Linked DNA regions of Homo sapiens: regions 1 and 3 are each linked to region 2. Evidence: fine-mapped expression QTL. A gene starts in region 2. Each other region holds a variant in brackets. All regions are shown on one strand. Distances are from middle to middle. Region 1 overlaps ELAPOR2 (endosome-lysosome associated apoptosis and autophagy regulator family member 2). Region 2 holds the start of ELAPOR2 (endosome-lysosome associated apoptosis and autophagy regulator family member 2). Region 3 overlaps ELAPOR2 (endosome-lysosome associated apoptosis and autophagy regulator family member 2).

What was found.
Region 1: its variant is fine-mapped to the expression of ELAPOR2 in whole blood (TOPMed, PIP above 0.99).
Region 3: its variant is fine-mapped to the expression of ELAPOR2 in skeletal muscle (GTEx, PIP above 0.99).

Annotation. Positions count from the first base shown.
Region 1 is chr7:87,011,134-87,021,470 of GRCh38, forward strand. All of the region lies in intron 1 of ELAPOR2 (endosome-lysosome associated apoptosis and autophagy regulator family member 2), which reads right to left. Among named protein-coding and RNA genes, the nearest start is that of ELAPOR2, 43 kb to the right of the region's middle. RefSeq lists a silencer at 10,287-10,337. The variant T/C (reference allele first, on the strand shown) is at 3,801.
Region 2 is chr7:87,055,135-87,065,471 of GRCh38, forward strand. ELAPOR2 (endosome-lysosome associated apoptosis and autophagy regulator family member 2) reads right to left here and starts at 4,520. Exons shown (of 22, transcript NM_001142749.3): 1 at 4,191-4,520. The coding sequence starts at 4,379. RefSeq lists an enhancer at 3,482-3,982 and silencers at 4,248-4,317, 4,408-4,797.
Region 3 is chr7:87,029,705-87,040,041 of GRCh38, forward strand. All of the region lies in intron 1 of ELAPOR2 (endosome-lysosome associated apoptosis and autophagy regulator family member 2), which reads right to left. Among named protein-coding and RNA genes, the nearest start is that of ELAPOR2, 25 kb to the right of the region's middle. The variant G/A (reference allele first, on the strand shown) is at 5,247.

The DNA.
Region 1 (10,337 bases), 44 kb before region 2:
GGCACGTGCCTGTAGTCCCAGCTACTCGGGAGGCTGAGGCAGGAGAATCGCTTGAACACGGGAAGTGGAGGTTGCAGTGAGCCAAGATGCATGGCGACAGAGCGAGACTCCATCTCAAAAAAAAAAAAAAAAAAAGAAAAGAAAAAGAAAATACACCACCACAAAACATGTTTGCAAATGAACAATTGACTTCATGCTGCATTAAACAAAGTAATAAAGGAGAGAACCTTTCCTAGACTGAATCCATGTCTGTATACCTGAAAATAGCATCCAGCTTTTTAAAACTCCTAATACTACTGAATGCTCTGGTAATATTCGGTTCTTATTGATAGTAACAAACTTTAAAATAATTCATACTTGAGTAATAATTGCAGATATTTATAACTCTTTTTAATACAAATACTCAGTACAATTTTTCCGTTTCAGTGAGTTCACAAAATTGCCAACTGGCTTAACATTGTTGTATAAAAAATACAGCCTTGTTTATCCAGCTTTTACCAACTTGGTGTCTTGGGAGCTTTCACAGAAGCACATAACAACCACCTATAATGAGAAATGTGTTGGTGGGTCACTAGGGAGTTGATCATTGAATAAGCTTTTCATATTTCTTTACTTTCTAACAATATTAAAGGTATATTTATAGGAGGGGAAGAAAGATGACAGAAACAAAAGACAGGGTCTATATGTTTTAAATATTCAGCATAACATCTGTACCAGCTATATATTATATACTTCTGAATAGAAATATAAGCTATAAATGCAAGTCACATGTGTAATTTTAAGTTTTCTAGTAGTCACATTAAAATGATTTTAAAAACAGGTAAAATTAATTTTAATAATATATTTTAACTTGATACCATTTGAACAGTAACAATATAAAAATATTAATGAGAAACTACATTCTTTTATTGTACTAAATAATCTAAATCCAATGTGTATTTTACACATATAGCACACTTCAATTTGAAATAGCCACATTTAAAGTGGTCAATATCTGGCCGGGCGTGGTGGCTCACACCTGTAATCCCAGCACTTCGGGAGGCCAAGGTGGGCAGATCACAAGGTCAGGAGATTGAGACCATCCTGGCCAACATGGTGAAACCCTGTCTCTACTAAAAATACAAAAATTAGCTGGGCATGGTGGCGCATGCCTGTAGTCCCAGCTACTCGGGAGGCTGAGCCAGGAGAATTGCTTGAACCCAGGAGGTGGAGGTTGCAGTGAGCCGAGATTGTGCCATGACACTCTAGCCTGGTGACAGAGTGAGACTCCTTCTCAAAAAGAAATTAAAAAAAAGTAGTCAATATCCACAAATGGCTACTAACCACAGTATTAGTCTAGTTCTACTCTTTCTACATTCAGTCAGTATGTTTTTATTCAATTATATCATATCTCTCCTAAGCTAGGGATCATTTTTGCATTTAGGACAGGCATTACACAACAGATGTCTGTACACAAAGTATCTGTACTTTCTGTTCACATACTTTTTAGAAGTACTTTGTTCAGTACTCTGTTCGGTACTTTTCAGAAAGTATCTGAACAGATACTTTCATTGCAACAAAAATAAAATAGGAGTTAATCTCATGTTAGCAGGGCTTAAAAGAACATTCCAACTTGAATGAACAAAGTATAACAAAAGTCATATCTTCCATGGGTCCTTTGGCAGAAGGTAGCTTTAAATCTGCAACTGTTCTAGAAGAGAAGAAAGTTCACACAGCCTGCCACTGCTGTGTGACCAGCAAAGCACTATTCTAAAATCCAAGAAATTTAATGACTAGAAAATCCTCTAAAAAATTGACCATAAAAAATGTTAAAGCTGGCCCAAATAGGTTGGAAATAAAGCACAAAATCATGCTATTGCAGTAACAAGCCATCAAATAGAACACAAAGAAGCACTTTGCAAACTTCCTCATCATTTCTGCTATTACTCTAAGATATTTATCTTGTGTTTCCAGACCTCAGTCTCCAATCTTACAAAATGAAGATAATATACCACAAGAATATATGCAAAAATGGCCAAGAAGGGTCTACTTTATATCACAGTTTATATTCAATTTCAATAGAAGAGAATGAAGCTCAAGATATTAACCCAAGCTTGCTCAATCGTTCCCAGTGATCTAGTGGCAAAAGCTCTAGCACTATAAATCATCTCATACATACATCGGGGTAAAAAATGTTAACAAATACCCTAAAATCAGAAGGGAAAATACTGTCATAAAGACAATGTATTCAAGTCCCTCATACTAAACTTGAGTTTAACTCATATCAAAAAGCTATTCTTAATCATATAATGAGCTTGTTTTCTGATTATTTTTAAAATGCCCAGGGTTTTCTTAGGTAACATGAGACAGCAGATTAGGCAAGCAAGACAGGGTGAGGTGAGTGTTAGATACCTAAAAGTTGCCACATTGAGAAGTACCAGCAGGGATGGAGTGAGGAAGGAGCAGGTGGTGAAGAAGATTATGGTGAATTATAAGGGACACTGATGTAGAGTCAAACACACCAGGAACAGCAATGACAGACTCTCAGTAAATGTTGGATTCCCTTCATAAGCATCTCCACAATGATTAGCTTACATCATCAAATTAACTTATGTTCAATTTTATTTCATTTTATTAAATAGAAAAATTTCCCTCAAAAACCAGCCAGTCGAGACTTATTATTGGTGATTCCATATTTGCAAATTTTACTTGCTAAAATTTACTTATCACCACAAAATCAATACTCAGTAATTTCCTAGTTATGTGTGAACATGCACAGTGCAGTGAAATATTGGAGTCACCTGACACACACATTCCCAGCTGAGACCAACAGGTGATGCTCTGCCTTCTTGTTTCAGCTCCCATACTGTCACTGAGTGTCCTTTTCCCAGTATATTTCGTGCCATGTTTTTCACTTTTTTTTTTTTTTTTTTGCTTTATGTTGCTTTAAAATGGTCCCAGAACATTGTACTGTCTAGAGTTCCTAGAAGGCTTTGATGTTCCTTACAGAGAAAATACATGTTAGGCAAGCTTCCTTCATGTATGAGTTACGGTGCTGTTGGCTGTGAGTTCAACATTAATGAATCAACAACATAGATTAAATAAGATCTCTTAAAATGGAAACACATGTAAAACAACATTATATTTCAATCTGCTGACAAAAATAAGACCAGAGGCTCTTGTATTTTTTTCTAGGACCAATTGTTCAGTATTGGCTAATTCAGTCTTCATGGCAACTTCACAGATCATAACTACTATGAATAATAAGAATTAACTATTTATGGTAAAAGCTTCAGTGCTTATAAAAGTGACATTTCCAGACAATTACTTAGTAATACTGGATTTTGTGAAGATGAAGCTATAATACGAAGCAGAATGTAATGGCCAAACACGGGTTTACACACAGAATTTCAAGAACACCTATGTCAACACCACATCCACTCTATCAATAAACACAATCACAATGTGAGTCACAAAAAATGTGACGCTTAAAGAAATAACTAAAAACCAATTTTGCCAGATTAAGTGAAGCAAATATGAGTGCATATTTTAAAATTTAAATTTTGATTTATACAATCAACAATTTAACATAAGAAATTTGCAAAATTTTTCTCTTACCCACTATAGAGAGCTCTTGATTCCTGTAATATAATTACACAAGAACACACTAAAACACTCCATAAAAATGAAATATTGTTCAATTCACTTCAAAAAACAACTGCTATGGGAGGAAGTTTTTGGCAATAGTAAATATGTTTATTATTATGATTGTTATGATGGTTTCACAGGTGTATGCATTTGTCCAAACACATCAAATTGTA[T/C]ACATTAAAGATGTGCAGTTTTCATATATAATTATATCTTTATTGATTTCATACCAGTAAAGCTGGTAGAAAAAAAAAGAAGTGGTGCGCTGCAGGAAAAAAAAAGCAACTGCTATGACTATAAATTATCACCATATAATAAATAAATTTGCACATGCTAATAGAATGACAGATTTATATTCACAAGAAATAACCATTTAGAATATTACAAAGTCTGTCTTTAATTTTTTGCAAATATTTTTGCACTATATTCAAAAAGTGCCTTTTAATTTTAATATTTTATCAAAACAATCTTTATCAATATTCTCTATCAAAATATAAGACCAAAAACAAAGCTGATAAATCTGTTGTGAACTGCAACACTGTCTAAAGGTCGTTTCTTATTGGACACAAAAATAAGTTATTGGCTTTAGACATTATCTGACACCAATTTTAATCCTAGCTCTTTCCTACTCTCCTGCCTAAAATTTATTCAGCAAATATAAACTATTTTTAATTCCTCACTAACAAAAATTATAAAACCTTTTTACTAAAAGGCTTTCTGTTTTAAGTCCTTCAAAGATGAAAAATCTGGCCAGACATGGTGGTTCACAGCTGTAATTCCAGCACTTTGGGAGCCAAGGCAGGTGGATCACATGAGGCCAGGAGCTCGAGACCAGCCTAGCCAACATGGTGAAACCCTGCCTCTACTAAAAATACAAAACATTACTTGGGCATGGTGGCGGGCACCTGTAGTCCCAGCTACTCGGGAGGCTGAGGCACGAGAATTGCTTGAACCAGCTACTCCCAGCTACTCCCAACTGCTCCCAGCTACTCAGGAGGCAGAGGTTGCAGTGAGCCAAGATCACGCCACTGCACTCCAGCCTGGGTGACAGAGCAAAAAATATATATGTTTTTCTAATGATAATGATATTCCTGTATTTCATATTTCAGATTGGGCTCTTTACACAACAAATTTTCTTAAAGTAGGTTGTCAGTTAACAGGCCAGTTTCTTAATTAAAGCACTGGAAGTAATGCAGCAGTTTCCTTTCCAGGTAACAAATCTCTTTCTAAAGGTGTGATTACCTTCACACTCTCAAGTCTTCCCTAAATTAGTGTTGTGTCCTTTTCTGTGCTTAGTGATTCCTGTGAAACTGAAACCTGAGACAAACAAATCTAAATACTTGAAAGCAAACAGAAAATTCTTAATCTTCAAGACAGAGAAATGGGTCATCATTTCTCAAAGACTTTTATAAATGAAACTGTTCTGTATGTTAGTGTTTATGTGTATAGGGATATTTTAGACTCAAAATGTATCTCTGTTTTCAGAATGAGATTATTCATTGCTGATAAAATATAAAGCTCTAGGTTAGAAAGTTTTAGGATTTACAAGTAAGGGGATGGGTAGAAATAGGGATGGACAAGACTCCATCTCAAAAAATATATATATATTTTCTAATGATAATGAATATTCCTGTATTTCATATTTCAGATTGGGCTCTTTACACAACAAATTTTCTTAAAGTAGGGTGTCAGTTAACAGTCCATTTCCAGTGCTCTTAATTAAAGCACTGGAAATAATGCAGCAGTAAGAGGATGGGTACAAGATGGGTAGAAATCACAGGAGAAAAGAGCAATGCCCCAAAAATTTACAGGTAATGTTGCAATTGCTTTTATCAATGATGTAAGAACTGACCATACTGAAGTATTTGCCACATCCAGTTCCGTAACTATACGGAGTATAGTAACTATTATATATATATATAATATATAATATAACATAACTGTAATGAACCAATCTTCTCTCTATACCTGTAATCTCGCCCAGTAACTACACAACGTGGGTTCTGAATGTCCATGGAAAAGGAAAAGGTAAAAGTTGATAACAAGGTGAGTCATCATCAGCAAACAGCAGCACCCAAAGTAAAAAGTTCTCTAAATGTCAAAACAACAGACTAAGCATGATCAAATAAAAGAAATCTCCTTTCCAAAAACCTGTCTTCAAAAAGTAACCAAAACCCAACTTTCCAACAAGAATAAAGATAGAAAACAAGTCTTTTAGATTCCTATCCTACTCATTCTCTTACATTCATTTTCCACAGTTGGAAAAATAAATTAGAGAGGAAGATGAATTATCACAGAAAAAGAAAAAAAGATAAATGCCATAATGTTGAAGACGAAATTTGTATTTGATTTTATGTATTAAATTTGAAAAGACATCCAATCCTCAGCTTTTACATTCCTGGCAATCTCATTTCTCTCTCCAAAAACTTGTAAGATTCAAAAATTAGATACACTCCATTTTGGGGGAATTTATCCAAGGAAATATCTAAAAATAAATATCTAAATACAGCAAAGATTTTACTATCACATTGTTTATTATGAACTGTAATGGCAAGAAGTAGAAAACAGTCTAAATGATCAACGATGGGGAACTGCTGAAATATATTTTGATATATCCACACAGTGGAATTCTGTACTTATTTCAAATTGTATACATCTGCCCCTGACTTGGAAAAATGCTCATAATAGATGAGTATAAAAATGAATTTTTATTAAATGCGAATGAATGCATACATATGAAAGGGGAATGAATATATGCTAAGGTATTAAGAGTACTCAGAATGCTTGGTTTGCTTATATTTCCTAATTTCTTTTATAATAAACACATATTTTTGTTTGTTTGTTTGTTTAAAAGATCTATCAGAAGTAAAACACAAAAATAGGCTGAGCGTGGTGGCTCGTGCCTGTAATCCCAACACTTTGGGAGGCTTAGGTGGGCAGAACACTTGAGCTCAGGAGTTTGTGACCAGCCTGGACAACATGGCAAGACTTCGTCTCTCCAAAAAATACAAAAATTAGCCGGGCATAATGGTGTGTACCTGTAGTCCCAGCTACTCAGAAGGCTGAGGTGGGAGGATCACTTGAGTCTGGGAGGCAGAGGTTGCAGCGACCCAGGATCTCACCACCTCATTCCAGCCTGGGTGACAGAGTGAGACTGTCTCAAAAAATAAAATAAAATAAAATAAAAGCAGATAAAGATTAATAATTGTCATTAACATCATCAGCCTAAAGTAAACAGAAGTTCCATTTCACACTGGCAGAAAAGTCACTTCTTTTGTTTTTGTTTTTTTTGAGACAGAGTCTTGCTCTGTCGCCCAGGTTGGTGCCAGGCCCAGTACAGTGGCGCAATCTCAGCTCACTGCAACCTCTGCCTCCCAGGTTTAAACGATTCTCCTGCCTCAGCCTCCCAAGTAGCTGAGATTACAGGCGCCCGCCACCATGCCCAGCTAATTTTTGTATTTTTAGTAGAGACAGGATTTCACCATCTTGGCCAGGCTGTTCTCGAACTCCTGACCTCGTGATCTACCCGCCTAGTCATCCCAAAGTGCTGTGATTACAGGCGCGAGCCACCACGCCCGGCCAGAAAAGTCACTTCTAATTCTATATTTAATGAGAGAAAAAATGCTAGATACTCACATAGGTTAGTATCAATTCATATAACTTATTTCCCTGACATGTAGGAATATTTTGCCTATTTATAATAAAGGCAAATGATTTGGATTGTCTAAGAAATGAGGCATTCTAGCTAGATGATTTTCAAAAGGTAAAAACAATTTCACCCAAAAATGAACAGGTTCAATTTCCTGTAGGTAAATGGAGTATGATGAACAAAATTTAATACTTATTTGATGAATGAGGATCTTAGTGCCCGAAAGTTCAATGCAAGTTATAAAGCTGTGGACACAGACAAATACAGAGAGAAACTACATGAATGAGTTTGGACTCAAGCATATATTGTGGAAATGGGTTCCCTGAATAAATCCCAGACATGCACTTGTTTTCTTGTGATATGTGTCTGTCTCTGAGCTTACGGTTCAAATTCAGATCCTAAACTTAGTGTACTAGTAGCCTTGAGTTAACTGTAGTTTTTTTATAAGTCACTGGAGAAAGTTATGTAGCAAAATAAATACTAAGACAAGCAGTATTCCATGTTCAAACAAGACAATATTAGAATGTTTTGCTCATTATCAAACATATACACCAATCACCTAAGGGAGACTTGGAAAAACATGTGAGCAAGGCAGAAACTTCTAGAAAAAAGCAAAAAATGACAGAGATCACTTCGTTAAGACATTTAACTTCTCTGTGACCAAAATACCATAGATAAAATAAGACAAACAGCAACATAGAAAAAAATATATTTCTAACAGATTGTCAAGATTTACATCTTCATTGTATTTTTGTATTTTTGTTTATTTATTTTTGAGACACGGTTTTGCCCTGTCACCCAGGCTGGAGTATTGTAGCACAATCGCAGCTCACTACAGCCTCAACCTCCCAGGCTTAAGCCATCTTCCTGCCTTGCCCTCCTGAGTAGCTGGGACCACAGGCATATGCTACTACACCAATTTAAGTTTTTGTATTTTTTGTAGAGACCTCATTTCAGATGTTGCCTAGGCTGGTCTTGAACTCCTGGGCTCAAGCGGTCTGCCCACCTCAGCCTCCTAGAATGCTGGGATTAAAGGAATGAGCCACGATGCCCAGCCCATTATATTTTTCAAAAATCTCTTCTGGTCATTAGGAAAAAGACAAAACTCACTAAAAGTCATTAAGCAGGCATTCACAAAAGGAAGAAAACAGTATCTGGTAATGTTTTATATAAATAGAAATTTTAAAATATGAACTGGACACTATTTTTGTTAAAGTAACAGTGATTATGAATAAAAGTATATTGGCAATCAGAAGAAGAAACAGACACTCAAATATTGCTGGTAGTATGTAAATCAGTATAACATTTCCATAGGGAAATTTGGCAGTGTGTCAAAAGCCTTAAAAGTACACACTTATTGACAAAACATTTCTATTCCCAGGACTCTATCCCTAGAAAATAATTAAGTAGTATTCTATATAAAGGGATATTCATTGCACTTAATATAGAAGTCAAAAGCTAAACTTTTATCACTTGATATTGGTAAAATAAATTCTGTTCATTCAAAATTATGTTACACCAATATAACATATTTTTAGTTTTTCATTAAAAATTATTTTATACCAATATAGCATATACAATATTTTTAGTTTTTCATTTAAAATTATGTTATACCAATATTTTCTTATAACACATCAGAAAGTGTTCAGAAATGTTAAACAGTAAACAGTGCAAGAAAACAATGTGTACCATCATCCCAATTGCTCTTTTAAGTATATTTTTGTACACAGCTATGGGTTTTAATACATATATATGCACTTACATACACACATATGTATATGTGTGCATATTTTAAAAGACTGAAAGTACCACAGCAAAACATAAATTTGAAGTAATTGTAATTCTGTATTTTCTAAATTTTCTATCTTAAATATACAGCTTTGATATCAGAAGAAACTATTATTAATAAAAGCAAACATCTGTTCATAGCAGCACTCTTCACAACAGCCAAAAGGTGAAAAGGACCCAAGTGACCATCAATGGATGAATGTAAAACAAAGTGTAGTATATACATAAAATGAAATATTTTTCAGACATAGGAGTAAAGTACTGATATTACTATAATGTGGATAAACCTCTAAAATACTATATTGTCAAAAAAGCCAGGCTCAGAAGGTAACATATTCCAGAATTACATTTATATGTAACGTCCAGAATAGATAAATCACATAAAATGCAGATTAGTGGTTGCCAGGAGCTGCAGGGAGGAGAGAATGGAAACTGCCTTATGGTTACAGGGTTTTACTTTGGAATTATGGAGATGTTTTGGAGTGTTACAATGCACACTTTATACATATCCTAAATGCCACTGAGTTTTCACTTTTAAATGATTAATTTTATGTTAAATGAATTTAGCCTTAATAATTTTTAAATTTAAAATTTAGAAATTGTAAAGAAAAAAGTAAACATCCAGTCATCACATTCCTCTTTAAAATTTACCAAATCATTTCAATCGCTTGAGACCATTTCCTCTACCAGTAGATTCCAGGTATGCTAGTGTGTCTGTTTCTCTTGCATGTGCTACTTTTATTACAAAAATAATAAAGTCTAACATTAATATAGTAGCATGAGCTGTTCTAAAGAGTTCATATGTATTAAATATGTTTAATCCTCACAACTCTATGGGGTAGGTATTATTAATTTCTATTATGATTATCCCTACTTTACAGATTAGAACAACACAGAATAAAGTGACTAGCTAAGGATTACACAGCTAGTAAGTGATAGAACTGGGATTTAAACCCAGCCAGACTGAGTTCAACCCTCTCAACTGCTTTAACTGTTATGTTTTACTTCCTCTCAAAGAATCCATGATCTCTGTAGAAAAACTAGAAATAGAGCTTTATATGTGAAATAAAGGATGACAAGACATACATAATCTTGCCACCCAGGGATAATCACAGTTAATTTGTTGCACATTTTCCCAAATAGATACACACGCATATATACCTACACCAATGTCTTCATAAGATGTTTTGTATTCTGCCTAATATATTGTAAATCTCTTCCATGTAAATAAATATACTGCCATATCAACACATTTAATGACTCATGATATCCATAT
Region 2 (10,337 bases):
CCTGAGGAACAGGGCCTAATAATACCTAACTGCCTACTCAACAGCTCTACATAAAGTCACTCCTTCCAGACAGAACAAGCTCCTTATCCCATCTTCTTCACATTTCTTCTCAGGGAGGTTAAGAGGCACCATCCTCTAATCAAGTTAGAACATTTCATTCTCTCACCCTCTGCATCCACTCACTGCCAATTCTATCTAAAGCATACTACTCCTCTTTTTGAAGTCCTACTACTGCATCCTATTGCCTACCAAATGAAGACCAGCTTCTTAGTGTGATATAAGGTCCCTTATGATAGGCTCCTGCCTGCCTGTCAGATTCATCTCTCATTAAGCTTCTCATTGCATGCTGTACTTCAGTTAGAACCAATTACAATACAATGCTGTTTCATGTTTCTGCCCTTTTTCAATCTGTGCTCTTCACCTGAAATGTCTTTCCCCCAAACTAGCCTACACTCACATCTGACCCTTGTCTGCTTGGCAAATTCCTACTTATCAATTAAGTCTCATTCACTTCCTCCATAGGGCCTTTTCTGATCCCACCCCCCTCAGTAGATATGATGGCCCATTGCTTCTTTCATGGCTTCAAATCACTTAACTGCAATGTTTGTTTACATATCTGTCTCATCCTTATCCAATTAAATTATATTCTTTAAATTACTAATTTCATATCTGACATTTTGTCTAGCACATGGTATAAACTGAATGTGGAACAAAAACTGTTAGCAAAACTCATCATTCAGTAGTCAGGGAGAACAGCAGAATTGCATTATGCAAGATTTTACAGCAGTGAACTAAGAATCAGCTATTTTGTGATTTAATTTACCAAATGTAAATAATACAGACATAATCCAATTAGTTCTGTTCTTTTTACTCTCATGTACTTTTCTATCTTCTGATACCTTACTGCAACTCTGAATTATCTGTTGGCCTTTATATTTTTTTGCTCTGGCAGCCCCATTAAGTCCTATTATTCACTGAGTCAAAAATGTCATGCCAAGTCTTGGATGGGCCTATCCTAGGAACCTCTGGAGTCTCACTGTAGACTCTTCCCAAAATATCAGGATCTAGCTCTACTAATCTAGCAATAATCAGCCCTCATATTTATATTTCTCCTTTATCTTATATTAATCTCATTTCATCCTCATAATACAAATAATTGGTCATGTTTCATTAATAACATTTTATAAGTGAAACACAGGCCAAGAAACCCAAAGAAGATTTACCTTTTATAAGTTCACCCCATACAAAAACCTGAGGAATTCTATACTTTCTGATGTCCAGGCCTCATTTATTTCCTTTGAATACCATTTTCCAAAGTCACATCCTATTCTTGTGCTTCATCTGCCAGCACTTTGACTTTCCTTTTATTTCTGTCTCCCAAATGATCGCTTCCTGTTTGTGCGTGTGCTTCCACACTGCTGATCTGATCACCAGCTGAACATTCCAACACAATAACTTTTCTCCCCCTTTCGACTTCATAATCCAAAGACTTTGACAAAGGAATATGTATTTTATGAGTTTCACCCCAGAGTCCATTCCTCTGCAAAAATCTAAATGTAACTTTTACCCATAACCTAGTTTTTGAAGGGCCTTTTTTCTGAACTCAGGCAATTATAACTGGATGACTCCCAGGCCAGTTCTCTGCATTTGTCTTCCTTTAGTTGCTTTCCTCTAAAACCAGGCAGGAAAATCAGAGTTTATGTAACTTTGTTAAACATGACTACTTCTACAAAAATATTAATAAATGAGGGTGACACAAACTACTGGGGGGAAATGAGGTTCAAAATGGCCTATAGCTTTTTCTATACTCCTCAACATTCTCTCACATTGAGAGTTGGTTTTAGCTCTCAGCCTGAAAATTCCTCACTTTAACTGCCCTCACTCTGTTCCCCACTGCATAGTCTGTCCTTTGTGGCATTTGCCTCCTTTAATGTTAACAAAAAGTGGAAAATGATAAACGAGCAGGAGTGAACACAGAGTAGTTACTTTAACTGTGTCTTTATTCACAGGCGTTTAGCCCACAATCCCATAACTGTATTCAGAGGAAAGGGCTGAGCTCAAGAGGATACCCTTTCCCCACTCCCAGCACAAACATTCCTTTACCTTCAAAGTCTGAAAATAACTTGCCCTCCCCACTTTCCTCTTAAAAACAATGTCAGAGAAAAACAATGACCAATTCTGTAAATTAGCTCCACTGGTTAGACCAGATATCAAACAGATTCAACCCCTGGGAGGTCACTAGGCCTCTTCTACTTCCAAGAACTTCTAACTCCCATTAGTTCCTCTTACTTGTCAGTCATCAGGAAGAACATAAATGGATCTGTGCATTAACATTTATAAAAACATACAGCCAAAGGCAGGCTCAATAGCGTCCTCCTATATATTTTATTTATTCTCATTTTTCAGAAGGAAAATGTAAATTTCAGATCTCAACGGATGAGTCACATGCAATTTCTAAAGCCAATGCAGTAAGGACCTGTGATCAAGTGAACCCAGCCTTCCTGAACCTTCTGTCATCTCTCTGCCCCTCCTTTCAATCTTTGTTTTAGGTTGCAGACTCTTCTTTCTAGGTATACATGTGTAGGACATGTGTTCATCTAAAAGATTAGTCTAGTTGTAGAGACCAAAGGCATCACTTCTATTGACCCTGACCTTCGCCTACTTCAAGCAGATTTTCATTACTAAGAATCGATGTTATCAGAAGCTTAAGACTTTTCAGTTTAGAAAAATATATTCTGCATATTAGAAGTTGGGGGCTGGAGGATAAAGTTTATCTTGTCACAACTGTTCAATCTGAGATGTCCAAGAAGCAGCTTTCTGTGGAAACCTGGAATAATGGATTATTCCCAGGTGATATGTAAAGTTGTAGAATATAGATTAAGCTCATTATACTAAAAAGCCCTAAAATTAAACACAGCTGTTTGTTGAGCTCTTGCCCTGATTTCCCCAATTACAACATTGCTGTGTGTTCGCACACAAGCCTTTGATCCGATTCTCTTTCATTTCAGTCTGTCCTGGGACCTGTACTGTAGGAGAGAAAGACGAAAATCCATAGATGATGGATGATGTGTAGAACACAGATACTCTGTAATTCAAGTCTCGGTAAAATTCAGAAGTTAGAGCAACATACACAAACAAGAGGGTCTGGCCTTTCTTCCCAGAGGGGCTATTGGCTAACCTATTTTTGCTACATTAATTAAAACGACCCATCGCCCTGATTCCTAACAATCTTCCTAAAAACAGTATCTATTCCATATATCCTCCCAACACAATCAAAGTAGGTCAGAAATGTTGCTTCCTTCCCCTCATTGATTTTCATTAAGAGGATGCACTTTCTGAACACTAAATGGAAAGATAAACACCCAATACAAGAACCAATGACACCCCCTGTAAATTTTTGGCACACTGTCTCGTTCTTCTAAAAGCCAGATAAAAATCTCATCTCCCATAGTTTATCCTTTTTGGCTGTAAAACAACAATGATTACAAGCTATAAAATACACCGCGGCAATACTTCAGCCAGGTGATAAAGCACCTCCCAAAAGAAGCATATTCACTGTCTTTTCTAATTTTCTCCATCATCAACCTGCATCTTCTCTACCAAGTACATACTCCTTTTTTTTCCCCCCCAAATTCAAATCCACATTTTGTCAGAAGGATGCTAAGTGACACCATACATTGGCTTAGCAAACCCACAGGGCCTTAATCAGGAAGCTGAGGGCAGGGGAGTAGGACGAAGGCGTTTGCAGAGACAGGGGAGTGGAGACAGGGGGAGGAGGAGCGGGAAATCCTCTGGTGTCTGTGTCTGGCTCTCTGGAAAAGCTGTGATGAGATGGTTCTTCAAATCCCACTGGTGGGGCTTCCCCAGTCTCCTCCCCTTCCTGAAATCTTTCCCTCGACCCCAGGTCCTCAAACCTGGCTGTCCAAAAAGGACGCCGCAAAGTCCTGCAGAGCCCCCAAAAGACACAAGCGCGGACAGAAAAGCATCCCCCGAGAGACAGCGAAGCCACACACCCTCTCCGGGCCAGCTACCAGGGCGGGCAACTTCACCCCTCGAAGCAAACGAAAGCCCCTGTTCTCCAAGCAAAGGAAAAGGGGATGGCAAACAGAAATAAACAGGAACCGCTCTCAGCCTTCATCTTCCGCGCCCTCCCCCAGCAAACTCCAGGTAGAGGACCAGGTGCTGCTCACCTCCTGGCAAGGAGGAAGCGGGCGGCTGGAGGAGGAGGGCAGGTCCCCAGCCCAGGCCGCCTGGCAGCCGGCGAGCGCCCAGCAGCAAATCCAGGCGGGGCTCCAGGGCGGCGAGCGCCCGCGGCGGGGAGCCTCCGCCGGCCGCCCCCAGCCCCTGCCCCGTACCGGCCCCCGGGCGCGGAACAGCATCTTCGTCCGGCCGCGGTCGGCGGGCCGGCGGCAAGGCAGCCTTCCCGGGGTGCGGCGGCAGCTCCGGCTCCCGGGCCGCGACTGCTGTGCGCTCGTCTCGCCGCTCCGTCACCCGCTGCCCGTCCGCCCGCTGACAGCTCTGCTGCGCTCGCGGCCCGGGCAGCCAGCGCCGATGCTCCCGTCACGCCGGAGGGAGGGACCGCGGGGCGCGGGCGCGGCGCGGGGGCGGGACGCGGGGCGGGGACGCTGGAGCTGGGGAGCAGGTGGCGCGGGCGGGGGCTGCGGCCCAGCCCGGCGGGTCCCCAGGGGCTGCGCGGCGCTCGCCTCGCGCTAGAGGGCGAGAGAGGCTGGGGACCCCGTGGAGTAGCCTGTCTCAGGTCCCCGTGGCCCACTGGGAGGGGCGCTCCCGGGATGAAGCCAGAGTAAATACAGGACATCAGGACATTGTTTTCTGGCGGTGGGTCTTTAAAAAGCTCGCCACTTTCCTCATTGCACACAAACACGCAGATGTGCCCTCGGAACATCCCTTGTAAGGATCCATGCTGGCTAGCGTCAGATCGAATTTCTAGTTAGGGTGTGCATGAAATGGCGGGGAAGAAAGAGGACTGAGGTGTAGACGTGGTGTGTGACTCAGTTTTCTCACCTATTTAATGAAAATAATACCCACCACGTAGGATTATTATGAGGATTAAGTAAGTTGATGTACATAAAGCACTTGGAAGAGTGCCTGGCACACAGTAGGTGACATGTGTTGGTAGTAGTAGCCATAATTATTGCTGCTATTGGTGTTATTTTGTGGAGATGTGTAACATTGGGCATTAAGCCCTGTGTTTTCTGGAGGAAACAGTTTCTCCATCTGTGCGATGATTGAGGTGCTCTTCGTTTTTTCTTTCATTCAAAAACATACTGAACTAGGTGATGGTGAACAAGATGGACATAAGGCCTTCCTCAGTGGCAAGGATCTCAAGATCCCTTCTTGATCTCAGATTCTGTAAATGGGTGAGTTATTGTGTTTTTCAAAAGAAGCATCCAAATTTCTGATTATTGAATATCTGGACAAATCCACGTGGCCCACTCATTATAAGTTGGCCTGTGGCACATTTGTTTGTGGCATTATCTCTAATATCCTTTTAACAAAATTTCCACATGAAAGTCTCTGTATATGTGTGTTTGTGTGTATGTATACACATATAGATTTGTGTATCACACCTATATTCTGATTATAACAATATATGTTATTTGTAAACATTTTGGAAAATATTGAAAAGTATCAGGAAGAATATAAAAATAACTAGAGATCCTACCACCCAGAGATAACATTGTTAATGGTATTAACATGTTGAGGAATTTCCTTGCTTTTTTTTTTTTAACTCTGTGTGTACTGCAAAACTGGAATAATAATTTGTAACCTGCTTTTATTTTTATTCTTAATAACATAAATATTTTCTCAAGTCATTAAAGTCTCCAACAACACAACTTTAATAATTGTAAAATATTTTCTACTCTTTAGATACATGTAATTTACTATTAGATATTAGGCATTGTTTAAGGATTCAGTGTTATTAATAATTCTGGAAAGAATGCCCTTGGAACATAATCTGTGTGCATCTTTAAATATTTTATGATAACTTTCTAGAAGTGAAAACATTGGATCACATGATATGTGTATTTTTAAAGTTTTTGACGAATAGTGTACAAATTCCTTCCAAAAAATTTGTAGCAATTGTTACCAGCAGTTTATGAGTATTTATTTCACATCACCCTAGATTATAATACTTCAGATATTTATCATTTTGGTAGAAGAGACAAAAGCTATTATTTTTAAAATGTATTTTTATCATTGGTGACATCGAGTGATTTTTTATATATATCTACTAGCTATTTGCATTTTTCCTTCTCATGTCAGGGTGTGAGAATTTTTCACTGGCACACTTTAGCCATTTTATTGAAGTTCCATTTTTTATTGATTCGTTAGCAATCTTCATAAGCTTTGTGTATGTTTATCATATATCTTACAAATACTTTTTTGTAGTCTTTTAAATTTACTTCTGATAGCTTTTCTGGCAGAAGCTTGTCATCTTTAGGTATTCAAATGTAGCAACATTTTCTTTTGTGATTTCTTCCTTTTTTATATCTAGAAGTACACGTATCTCTGCAAAATCATACAGATGCCTATGTTTTCTTATTTTGTTATATTTTGTTATTATTTCCTTTTTATATGCTTTATTCTTTAATTCATGTGGAATTTTTAGGAGTCAAATTATGTTATGATTTTTGTCATCTGAGAAAGAACTAACAACATGACTATTAAATTGAAAACAGCTTCTTTCCTTATAAAAATAAGAGTCGTCCAGTCAATGCACTTGGATCAAATGACAATTGTAGATTTTCCAGAGTAGGACAACTTGCCACTTTCAATAAATACTTTTCTCATAGTTGTCCCATCCATAAAAAAGATCTTGACCTTGGATAATTAAAATCAGCATAAAGGCTGACAGAGAAAGGAAATTTCAAGAAGACTCTAAGGTCCTCTTCTACCTGTTATTTTAGGATGTAATAGCAAATTATTCAAAGTTTGTGATTATCTGATCAATAAATTTACTCTTAAAGATAGTTTTATAAAAATATACTTTAATAGAAAATTCATAATGAAATTTTTGCAAGAATGGGTTGAAATAGCTTACAATCACTAGGTAATAATCATTTTTCCACTTTATTTGTGCAGTGTATACCTGAAAATTGAACTGAATTTTGTTAAAAAGTCAACAAAAGCCTTAGCTGTATCAACAAAAGCCATAGCCAAAATGATGCTATATAAATAGATTTATTTTCTTTTTTAACTTAAATCAGATTGTGGTATAAATAACCCCAATTTTTATTTATTTTATTTTTATTTTTATTTTTATTATTATACTTTAAGTTTTAGGGTACATGTGCACAATGTGCAGTTTAGTTACATATGTATACATGTGCCATGCTGGTGTGCTGCACCCACTAACTCGTCATCTAGCATTAGGTATATCTCCCAGTGCTATCCCTCCCCCCTCCCCCCACCCCACAACAGGCCCCAGAGTGTGATGTTCCCCTTCCTGTGTCCATGTGTTCTCATTGTTCAATTCCCACCTATGAGTGAGAATATGCGGTGTTTGGTTTTTTGTTCTTGCAATAGTTTACTGAGAATGATGATTTGCAATTTCATCCATGTCCCTACAAAGGACATGAACTCATCATTTTTTATGGCTGCATAGTATTCCATGGTGTATATGTGCCACATTTTCTTAATCCAGTCTATCATTGTTGGGCATTTGGGTTGGTTCCAAGTCTTTGCTATTGTCAATAATGCCGCAATAAACATACGTGTGCATGTGTCTTTATAGCAGCATGATTTATAGTCCTTTGGGTATATACCCAGTAATGGGATGACTGGGTCAAATGGTATTTCTAGTTCTAGATCCCTGAGGAATCGCCACACTGACTTCCACAATGGTTGAACTAGTTTACAGTCCCACCAACAGTGTAAAAGTGTTCCTATTTCTCCACATCCTCTCCAGCACCTGTTGTTTCCTGACTTTTTAATGATTGCCATTCTAACTGGTGTGAGATGGTATCTCATTGTGGTTTTGATTTGCATTTCTCTGATGGCCAGTGATGGTGAGCATTTTTTCATGTGTTTTTTGGCTGCATAAATGTGTTCTTTTGAGAAGTGTCTGTTCATGTCCTTCGCCCACTTTTTGATGGGGTTGTTTGTTTTTTTCTTGTAAATTTGTTTGAGTTCATTGTAGATTCCGGATATTAGCCCTTTGTCAGATGAGTAGGTTGCAAAAATTTTCTCCCATTTTGTAGGTTGCCTGTTCACTCTGATGGTAGTTTCTTTTGCTGTGCGGAAGCTGTTTAGTTTAATTAGATCCCATTTGTCAATTTTGTCTTTTGTTGCCATTGCTTTTGGTGTTTTAGACATGAAGTCCTTGCCCATGCCTATGTCCTGAATGGTAATGCCTAGGTTTTCTTCTAGGGTTTTTATGGTTTTAGGTCTAATGTTTAAGTCTTTAATCCATCTTGAATTAATTTGTGTATAAGATGTAAGGAAGGGATCCAGTTTCAGCTTTCTACGTATGGCTAGCCAGTTTTCCCAGCACCATTTATTAAATAGGGAATCCTTTTCCCCATTGCTTGTTTTTCTCAGGTTTGTCAAAGATCAGATAGTTGTAGATATGCAGCGTTATTTCTGAGGGCTCTGTTCTGTTCCATTGATCTATATCTGTGTTTTGGTACCAGTACCATGCTGTTTTGGTTACTGTAGCCTTGTAGTATAGTTTGAAGTCAGGTAGCGTGATGCCTCCAGCTTTGTTCTTTTGTCTTAGGATTGACTTGGCGATGTGGGCTCTTTTTCGGTTCCATATGAACTTTAAAGTAGTTTTTCCCAATTCTGTGAAGAAAGTCATTGGTAGCTTGATGGGGATGGCATTGAATCTATAAATTACCTTGGGCAGTATGGCCATTTTCACGATATTGATTCTTCCTACCCATGAGCATGGAACGTTCTTCCATTTGTTTGTATCCTCTTTTATTTCATTGAGCAGTGGTTTGTAGTTCTCCTTGAAGAGGTCCTTCACATCCCTTGTAAGTTGGATTCCTAGGTATTTTATTCTCTTTGAAGCAACTGTGAATGGTAGTTCACTCATGATTTGGCTCTCTGTTTGTCTGTTATTGGTGTATAAGAATGCCTGTGAGTTTTGTACATTGATTTTGTATCCTGAGACTTTGCTGAAGTTGCTTATCAGCTTAAGGAGATTTTGGGCTGAGACAATGGGGTTTTCTAGATATACAATCATGTCGTCTGCAAACAGGGACAATTTGACTTCCTCTTTTCCTAATTGAATACCCTTTATTTCCTTCTCCTGCCTAATTGCCTTGGCCAGAACTTCCAGCACTATGTTGAATAGGAGTGGTGAGAGAGGGCATCCCTGTCTTGTGCCAGTTTTCAAAGGGAATGCTTCCAGTTTTTGCCCATTCAGTATGATATTGGCTGTGGGTTTGTCATAGATAGGTCTTATTATTTTGAAATACGCCCCATCAATACCTAATTTATTGAGAGTTTTTAGCATGAAGCGTTGTTGAATTTTGTCAAAGGCCTTTTCTGCATCTATTGAGATAATCATGTGGTTTTTGTCTTTGGTTCTGTTTATATGCTGGATTACATTTATTGATTTGCGTATATTGAACCAGCCTTGCATCCCAGGGATGAAGCCCACTTGATCATGGTGGATAAGCTTTTTGATGTGCTGCTGGATTCAGTTTGCCAGTATTTTATTGAGGATTTTTGCATCAATGTTCATCAAGGATATTGGTCTAAAATTCTCTTTTTTGGTTGTGTCTCTGCCCAGCTTTGGTATCAGGATGATGCTGGCCTCATAAAATGAGTTAGGGAGGATTCCCTCTTTTTCTGTTGATTGGAATAGTTTCAGAAGGAATGGTACCAGTTCCTGCTTGTACCTCTGGTAGAATTCGGCTGTGAATCCATCTGGTCCTGGACTCTTTTTCGTTGGTAAGCTATTGATTATTGCCACAATTTCAGATCCTGTTATTGGTCTATTCAGAGATTCAACTTCTTCCTGGTTTAGTCTTGGGAGAGTGTATGTGTCGAGGAATTTATCCATTTCTTCTAGATTTTCTAGTTTATTTGCATAGAGGTGTTTGTAGTATTCTCTGATGGTAGTCTGTATTTCTGTGGGATCGGTGGTGATATCCCCTCTATCATTTTTTATTGTGTCTATTTGATTCTTCTCTCTTTTTTTCTTTATTAGTCTTGCTAGCGGTTTATCAATTTTGTTGATCCTTTCAAAAAACCAGCTCCTGGATTCATTAATTTTTTGAAGGGTTTTTTGTGTCTCTATTTCCTTCAGTTCTGCTCTGATTTTAGTTATTTCTTGCCTTCTGCTAGCTTTTGAATGTGTTTGC
Region 3 (10,337 bases), 25 kb before region 2:
AATGGTTTATAATAAGCATGTTTACAGAAAAATAATGAAAGAAATATGGATAAGATCACTCAGACAGGATATCTACAATGCAAAAAGACAAAAAGCAAAAACCTGGGGCAATCGAGATTTACAAAGAGGTCATAGAAGAGTAGCTAAAGAAATAAGGACATAACAATGAGTGACACAACATTACAGTATAAGAAAGCAGAAGCCTGGAAGTAGAGTCAAATGCCTCAGATGGAATAGGATGAGGATTAAAGACACCACTAATAATTAGATGATTACTAACCATGACAAGAGATTCAGGAAAATAAGTGGGATAAAAGCCTGACTCTAGTGAATTGGAAAGAGAATTGAGGAAATAAAGGTAAACAATCTGATTTTGAAGAGATCAGGAAAACAAAGCCATAGCTGAAAATTTCAGGTTAAGGATTAGCCTGCCTCTGTCATAGAGAGTGCAGAACTCACTACTATGATGCCAAGTAAGTCACATTTATTCTCCCTGTCCTGTTAGGGTGATCACCTACTGCTACAAAAGATGGATTCTAAGACGAGATAAGCCTAAATGGGACATGTCAGTCAGTCACAGTACATACCAATACCTTTTCTCTTCCTGGAACAATATAAGAAAAACATAAGCGTCCTCAAAACTTGCAAAAACACTATTAGTCTAAAAGAATGCTTATCTTGTTCTAAATGCAAACATGTTAGTCAACAGAATTCTCATCAGCTCCCACCAAAAGAAAAAAAAAGAAAGAAAGAAAAAGAAAAAATACAACTAAACCTAGCTATCTTGATGGATTTGTGATTTATGGCATTAAACTGAATTAAGTTTGGCCTAAAGCTGCCACCGTACATATTTTGAGTTTGGCATAATGGTTTCTCCATACATTATGAACTATAACCTAACTTGTGTAAACAGACTGTAATTTCATGAAAAGTAAACCCTTATAACAAGTAGCTGAGTCTCAAATCACAGTAGCTGCAGACAACCAGAGGCTGAAAGCTGCCAGATTACACCCAAAGAAGGTACATGCCAGCTGTACCAATCAAGTACTCTCTGTATGTCATTTCTTATTTTCTCGTTATATAGTCCACCAGGTTTGTAGGTGGGGGTACTCTGTTACCCCATGGTGTTGATGAAGACATACCCAAGACTGGGTAATTTATAAAGAAAAAGAGGTTTAATGGACTCACAGTTCCACATGGCTGGGGAGGCCTCACAATCATGGTGGAAGATGAAAGGCACATTTTACATGGTGGCAGACAAGAGAGAATGAGAGTCAAGTGAAAGGGGTTTCCCCTTATAAAACCATCAGATCGCATGAGACTTATTCACTACCACGAGAACAGTATGGGGAAACCACCCCCATGATTCAATTATCTCCCACCTGGTCCCTCCCACAACATGTGGGAATTATGGGAGCTACAATTCAAGATGGGATTTGGGTGGGGACACAGAAAAACCATATCACCACCTTCATCAGGAATGCTGTCTGGTTCTAGAACTTTTTTCTTGCTCAAATGTTAAATTTAACTCCTCTCAGTTTTTCTTTAACAATAGAAACATAATTTCAATTAGGAATGAATATATTTAATTGTTCATCCAACTGAACACACACAAAGACTGTTTTCATTTCCATACAGTATGTCAATGCTCATTACCATGAACTAAACAAAGTCCTCATTTTAGCCTCTGAATGAGTGGCATGAGATCCACATTTCTCACCTGCACTCCCAGAGACATGCATTCATTAATTGATAGTTAAATGATCTACAGACAGGCAAGTAAGTGAAAATATTAATAGTTCTAACAGCAGGCACATCTAATAGACTAACTGAATGGTTAGCTCCAAAAATCAAGATTTATCAGAACAGCGTTAAATACTGAATGAAACAAAGAATCACCTACAGGAATATCTCAGAATGCCAAAAATCCTTTAGTACTTACACTTACATGTTTAGACTGCTGCGGCTAAATTTTATAAAGAACTTACTGGAGTACTCACTAGTTAGTATTTAATGATCATAGATTACATTATCTTATTGGAGCTTAAGAATATCAAGTGCTATGATTACAACTATATTATGTTAAAAATAGGTATATTAAATAACAAATTGTGTATAGCCATATAGTAGACTACTACTCAGCAGAAAGGAACAAACTTGATACACACCACAATGTGAATAAACCTCAAAAATCATTATGCTAAGTGAAAGAAGACAGCCCCCCACCCAAAAAAGAGTACATGCCATACAATTCCACTTATCTAAAATTCTATAAAATGCAACTGAATCTGTAGTGACAGCAGATCAGTGGCTGCCTAGGGACAGAGTGGAGGAAGGGTTAGATTACAAAGAGAAACAGGAAACTTTTGGGGATGTTGAAAATGACTATCTTGATTATGACAATAGTTTCATGAGTGCTTACATATGTCAAAACTGATCAATTTATATACTTCAAATATATGTATCTGAGTGCACTTCAATTAAGCTTCCATAAAGATTTGTTTAAAGATTGAGGCAATGATTTAACTTCTATATAAAATGTCTGAATATCACTTTAAAGCAGCATCATTTGCTTATGAATGATGAATGAACTAATAACAAATGATTGCTATTAAGTGGGCTAATATCTGTAAAACACTTACAGCAATGCCTGAGCCATATTAACTGATAAGTCTTAAAAGAAAGAGGTGTAAGGAAGAGAACAAAAACAAAAAGATGTAAAATGACAGAATTACACATCAATTTGTCCATCAATTTTTATTCTGAATTTTCTTTGGAATATAGTTTTCCAACAACAGAAAAAGGCCATCTGTTTTTGAAGTTTTACAGATTTCTGGTTTAAGATGACATCAGACTAACAAATCTCACTCTCACCTCTTCACGTACATCCTTCACTCCCAGAAATGTACAGATAAAAACAGAGGCAGAAAATGCCCTAGGTCCAGTACCTATCATGTGCTTCTTCACATAGAAGAACCACAGACAGCTCTGTTTCTTTAAAACATTCTCCTAATCGAGAATCTAATAGACAGAATGAGATCCTCAAAGTTCATCAGCATAGCATAAAAAGGAAGTTTCTCAGACAACAGAAACTGGACTAGGAACTCTGCACAGACATGCTATCAAGACAGGAGGACCAGTGGCTACCTACACACCTTGTGTGTGAGTAAAACACAGCAGTACATAAAGCTTTCCTTGTGAAAATGTGGAATTAACATCTACCTTGGAGGAGACGAAAGATTTCTGAAACACATGAGAAAAGGATCTCTACCTTGAAAAAAAGAAATCATGTGAAAATGATTGGCTACTGGGAAAAACTGTAAATAGCTGCCTGGTACACCTAATAAGATTCGATCAATAGCCTCTAAGAATCAGTCATGGAGAGCTGTAAGCATAATAGATCAGTTCTGTGTAGGCAGAGTGGGAGGTAGTGGAGTTCAGTGGAAAGTGAGCTCTCTGGAGACAAATCTATCCCAGCTTTATGGCTCACTAGCTTTGTCATCTTTTGTAAGTTATTAATTGCCTTTGAGCTTCAGTTTCTTCATCTCTGAAAGCAGAGGCATGGACTTCTGTGAGAAAAGTGTTTCACACATTAACTACTCAATAAATGGAACTTGTTATCAAAAAAATCGAAGATAATTAACTGACAAAACGTTAGAATTAATAAGACAGCCCTGTAAGAAACTAGATACACAATTAATTTCTAAAAACCAGTGGCTTTTCAACATATCAGGGAAAAATCAATTAAAAGGTAAAGTGGTTGGCAGAAAAATGTCATGGAAAATAGTAACATAAAATAGTTCAGAATACAAAGATTGTGCTAGTGAGAAATACAGAATGCCTCAATAAATGCTAAAACAGACTGTATGTCTTTAAATGTGAAGATAATACTAAAAATATGACATTTTTTCCAAATAAATGGGCGAACTTAAGAGAATCCAAAAAAAATTTTTAACTTTTCAAAATTATTCTGAAGTTGAACTGAAAGACTAAATAAGTGAGAACAGCTGAGAATGAAAGAAAATTAAGTGCCACCATATAAAACTATATTATAAAACTCTGCAATCTGTACAAAAAAAATCAATAGTGTAGAAAATAGCTCAAAAGAAATTGAATAAATGTGCATATATATAATATAGCACATATTATATATAAAACAATAGCTTATAAATTTTTATATATCCACATACACAATAGATGGTATAGAAAACAGACCAACAGAAAAAGGATGAATTATGGATTGTTCAAAACACTATTTGTAAAAACTGGTTATTCAGGGAACAAAGTCAGAGACATATCAAGTACTTAATAAAATTCTTGAGGAATCAAAATAGGGGAGTAAGTTCATGTCATATTTTTAAATGCCAAAAAACATTACCAAACTATATGTACATAATATTACCATTTTGTAACCATATGTGTACACTGATAATGAAATACATGCAAAGGACTTTTGATATATGTAATAGAGGCAGTATAGTCTGATGGTGAAAAGTATGGGCCCTGGTGTAGCAGCTTGGATTCACAAGTAACTTAAACATGGGGAGAAGATGCGGCGGTTCAAGCTTACCAATTAGAGTTAGGGAGATGAGTGAGTTAATAAATAAAAATGCACTTAAAATTTTACCTGGCTATTGTTATTATTTATTATTCATATTACAAATACTAAGATGTTAAAAGTGGCATGCTTATTTAGTGAGATTATGGGTGTTTTTATTGCTGCATTTTTCTGGAATGCATATATTGCTTTTAACTTTAAAAGGTGACAAATGTAGAAAAAAATGAGATCATTAAAAAAAAACCTCAAGTAAATGATCTTAATATTTATCTGCTCTTTAGATAGGGAAGCACTTTCCTAGCATAACAGGCTCAGATATGTTTAAGCATCAATTATTATTTTGGTTCAAGTTATTTCCTGCTATGCATTATTTATATGCCTAAGAATTATCAAGTAGAAGTCTGCATTACATTTTCAAGGGTCAGTTCTTTCTGCTCTTAACGTTAGGAGGTAGGGTTAAACACCAAAGGGCACTGTGTTTTTACACTGTAGCATTCTTAGAATAAAGTGCTAAGTAAGACAGAATAAGAATGTGTGTGGCCAGGCGCAGTGGCTCACGACTGTAATCCAAGCACTTTGGGAGGCCAAGGCGGCTGGATCACCTAAGGTCAGGAATTCGAGACCAACCTGGCCAACATGGTGAAACCCCGTCTCTACTAAAAATACAAAATTAGCCGGACATGGTGGC[G/A]TGTGCCTGTAATCCCAGCTACTCAGGAGGCTGAGGCAGAATTGTTTGAAGCTTGAAGCAGGGAGGCAGAGGTTCCAGTGAGCCAAGATAGCACCACTACACTCCAGCCTGGACAAAAAAGAGTGAAACTCCGTCTCAAAAAAAAAAAAAAAAAATTGTGTGCTAGCTACGACTAATGCATCAAGGTCAAATATTTATCTTCTCACCAGTTACAGTAGGTATGGATATACCCCTGAGCAGTCATTGAACTGCCCCTTAAATCCAGCATAGTGAAATTGTCAAAGTTCAGTAAATTAGAACTCATGGCTCCTACACATGGAACCTAGGTTTGCAATCCATCCAAAGAAGCAGCTCTGCAATTTTCAGAGTATAAAGACAAAGCTCATGGCTTCTGCATATGTAAAACACCTTCTAAGATGAACTAAATTCTGCATCCTTTTGTCTACTACCCGCTAATCCAAATCTTGTCCTCTAAATGAGCATTATAGCAATTATAGCATTATGACTGCACTTAATATATTTGAAGCTCATGTCATGGCCCCCTCAAGTCTACTCTAAGCTAAACAACCCCATTTCCTTTGGTTAGTTTCCCGTGACGTACTTTCCAAATAACTAATCTTCCTAATTCACATCTCAAGCCAATGTCACCCTTTGTCAATATCCCTCTTCAAATATTGCATCTAAGTTGAACTAATGACCTAATATAAATGTCTACCTTCCACAAACAAGGCATTCTTCTCATATAAACAGAACTCAAGACCCTCCATCATTGCTTTTGCAGCCATATGACAGCTATGGCTTCAGAAGTACTTTTAAGTAAAATTTTCCCATTCTATGCTTGAACATCTGATTTTCAGAACCAGAAAAGAACAGTCTACATTTAAATCAATTATGTTGGATTGCCCATTATTCTAGCCTTTTGAAATCATTTTGAATCCCAATTCTGTTTTCCAACTCATTAGGAATCCTTCTCAGCTTTCTGACTTTACAAAATTTGGTTATGCCGTCTCAAAACCCAAGTATTATTTAAAATGGTAATAGTAAAACAGTAAAAGGACAGAAATTAGATATTAAGCACAAAAGTATTGCATTGGAGATGTTCTTTCAGTTTAGCATCACATACATTAATAATCTTAGTATACATTTGTTCAAATAGCCAGGAATCTGCCTAATATTCCGTCATTCATCATATACTATGCATTTTGTCAATAATGATATGACAATTCAAATGTCTCACTGTAGGCCAAGCATGGTGCCTCACACCTGCAATCCCAGTACTTTGGGAGGCTGAGGTGGGATGATTACTTGAGACCAGGAGTTCAAGACCAGCCTGGGCAACAGGGTGAAACCCTGTCTATACAAAATAATAATAATAATACAAAAATTAGCAAGGCATGGAAGCATGTGCCTGTAGTCCCAACTACTCGGGAGGCTGAGGTTGGAGGATCACTGGAGCTCTGGGAGGTCAAAACTATGTGAGCTGTTATTGTACCACTGCACTCCAGCCTGAGTGACAAGGAGACCCTATCTTTAAAAAGGGTTTGCTGAACTATTCACAATAGCAAAGTCATGGAAGCAAGCTAGGTGACCATCATTGGTGGATTAGATAAAGAAAATGTGGTACATATACCCCATGGAATACTATAGAGCCATAAAAAACAACAAAATCATGTATTTTGCATAAACATGGATGTAGCTGGAGGCTATTTTCCTAAGCAAAGTAACACTGGAACAGAAAACCAAATACCGTATGTTCTTACTTATAAATGGCAGCTAAACATTGGGTACTCATGGAATTAAAGATGGCAACAATAGACACTACAGACTATTAGAAAGGAAAGGGAAAAGCAGGGGCAAGGGTTGAAAAACTGTTGGGTACTATGGTCAGTACCTGGGTGATGGGATCATTCATATCCCAAACCTCAGCATCATACAATATGCCCAGATAACAAACGTACAAATGTACCCCAATCTAAAAGTTGAAAAATTAAAATAAGAAAACACCCTGAATATTAAAAATCACCCTGCCTATATCATACTCCAGATTTACGGGTCTCCTTCCCATCAACCTCCAGTCTGCTTCTGTGCTAATGCTAATCCTTCTCTACTGGCTGTACCTTCTCAGTTTCATCCTCAAATGCTTCTCACTCTGCTTGCTTCTTAAATGCTGTTGTTTCCCTAAGCACTCTCCTCAACACAGTGCTCTTGCTATATGCTCAGAGCCTAAGTGACCTCATCAACATCAATGGCTTCAATTACCTCTTATGTACTCATGGCTCCCAAGTTGTCTCTCAGCTGCACTCCTGTACATCCACCTGTCTTCAGGAGAGCACTGTTTGTGTGTGCCCAGGGTACTATAAACTCAGGATGTCCAATGCTGAACTCATCCTATTTCCCGCCCCCACCACCACCTCCTCCTTTTCCTTCTCTCAATTTTTTTATCTCAATAAAAGACAGCAGCATCTACTCAGACCAAAAACTTATAAGTCATGGTAGACTGAAATGTATCACTCGGTTGCAGACTCCTGAAAATAAGATGTCTTTAATAGCTGTAAAATCCATCTATTCTCTCCCTCTCCATTCATACTGTCATGTGTTTAGTTCTGTTAGTTATTTTCTCCCCGTGAGAGAGGCAAGAGTCTCCTAACTGATCTTCCTGCGTCCAATGTGATTTCCCTTTTATGTTCCTTCATTTGCCAACAGAATAATCTTTCTAATTTGATGTTAATAGCGCTTCATAGCTTGCCTCGCAAGACCTTCAGTCTCTGACACTTCTGCCACCACCACCCACGTGCCCTTCAAGTTGGCCCTTGAAATTATAATATTATTTAATTCCTCTTTGATGTTATACATGTTATTTTCTTTGACTGAGATGTGGTGGTCTCTGTGCATCCTGTAAAGCACTACTATAAATCCTTCCAAACTCAGCTGAAACATCACTTGCTCTGACACCAGAGTTTCTTTAGTCTGATTTAGTTGCCTCTTCTCTGTGCTTCTATACAGCCCTGTGAATGACTCCATCACAGCACTTAACCCATCTGTACTATCATCATAGACTATCCTATAATTTTTTCCTGTGAGATACATGCTAGATGAGCTAATAAACATATGAATGGCAACTGAAAAAGAAGTAACAGAGAATGAATAGTCATGAAATATCTAAAACACACTCTTAGAACCAAGAATACCAATCCAAGTGCAAGAATTCTTGGTCACTTTGTAGCTGCTTCCATATTTTTCTCAAACACCTGAAAGCCTTCATATATTGTAATGATTTAATAAGGTATTATGTACCAAACATTCTTTTTGGAAATTAAGATGTATTACAGTTTGATATGTTAAGGGAGGTAATTCCATATACCTTTTTAGGGACTAAATAATTGCTTTCTCTGGATATTACATATCTCAAAACACACAGATAAGAAAAAGTCTAGGGAAATATATATTATCCTTATTATACTAAAAGCTTGTATACATAACGATGCAAACACCTAAATAGGAAATCTCACAAAAAGTGAAATACAAAAAGCTAAGTGACACGAAAAATATTGACCTTCATGAGTGATTAAAGAAATGCACATGTTAGGTCACAAAATAAGTCTTAATACATTCAAAAGACTGAAACAATATCAAGCAGCTTCTCTGGCCACAGTGGAATAAAACTAGAAATTAATAATAAGAGCAATTTTGGAAACTATACAAATACATGAAAATTAAACAATATGCTCCTGAATGACCAGTGGGTCAATGAAGAAATTGAGAAGAAAATTGAAAAATTCCTTGAAACAAATGGTAATGGAAACACAACATACCAAAACTTATGGGATACAACAAAAGCAGTATTAAGAGGGAAGTTTATAGCTATAAGTGTCTACATCAAAAAAGAAAAAAAACTTTAAATAAACAATCTAATGATGTATCTTAATGAACCAGAAAAGCAAGAGCAAACCAAACCCAAAATTAATAGAAAATAATAAAAATCACAGAAATAAATGAAATGAAGAAAATACAAACGATCAATGAAACAAAAAGTTAGTTTTTTGAAAAGTTAAACAAAATTGACAAAACTTTAGCTAGACTAAGAAAAAAAGAAGATACAAATAAATAAAATCAGAAATGAAAAAGAAGACATTACAACTGATACTGCAGAAATGCAAAGGATCATTAGAGGCTACTATGAGTAACTATACGCCAACCAACTGGAAAACCTAAAAGAAGTGGACTAATTCCTAGACTCATACAACCTACCGAGACTAAACCAGGAAGAAGTCCAAAACCTGAACAGACCAATACCAATGAAATCAAAGCCACAATAAAAAGTCTCCCAGTAAAGAAAAGCCTGGGACCCAATGGCTTCACTGCTGAATCCTACCAAACATTTCAAGAAGAACTAATCTCGGTCCAACTCAAGCTATTCTGAAAACCCAAGAGGAGAGAATACTTCCAAACTCATTCTACAAGGCTAATATTACCCTGATACCAAAACCAGACAAAGACACATAATAAAAAAAACTACAGGCCAATATCTCTGACGAATACTGATGTAAAAATCCTCAACAAAATACTAGCAAAATGAATTCAACAACACATTAGAAGGATCATTCATCATGACCAAGTGAGATTTATCCCTGGGATGCAAGGATAATTCAACATACGCAAATAAATCAATGTGATACATTGGATCAACAGAATGAAGGATAAAAGCTACAAGATCATTTCAATTGATGCTGAAAAAGCATTTAATAAATTTCAACATCCCTTTATGATAAAAAAAAATTTAAAAACTAGGTATAGAAGGAACATACCGAGGGAGGAGCCAAGATGGCCGAATAGGAACAGCTCTGGTCTACAGCTCCCAGCGTGAGCGACGCAGAAGACGGGTGATTTCTGCATTTCCATCTGAGGTACCGGGTTCATCTCACTAGGGAGTGCCAGACAGAGGGCGCAGGTCAGTGGGTGCGCGCACCGTGCACGAGCCAAAGCAGGGTGAGGCATTGCCTCACTCGGGAAGCGCAAGGGGTCAGGGAGTTCCCTTTCCTAGTCAAAGAAAGGGGTGACGGACGGCACCTGGAAAATCGGGTCACTCCCACT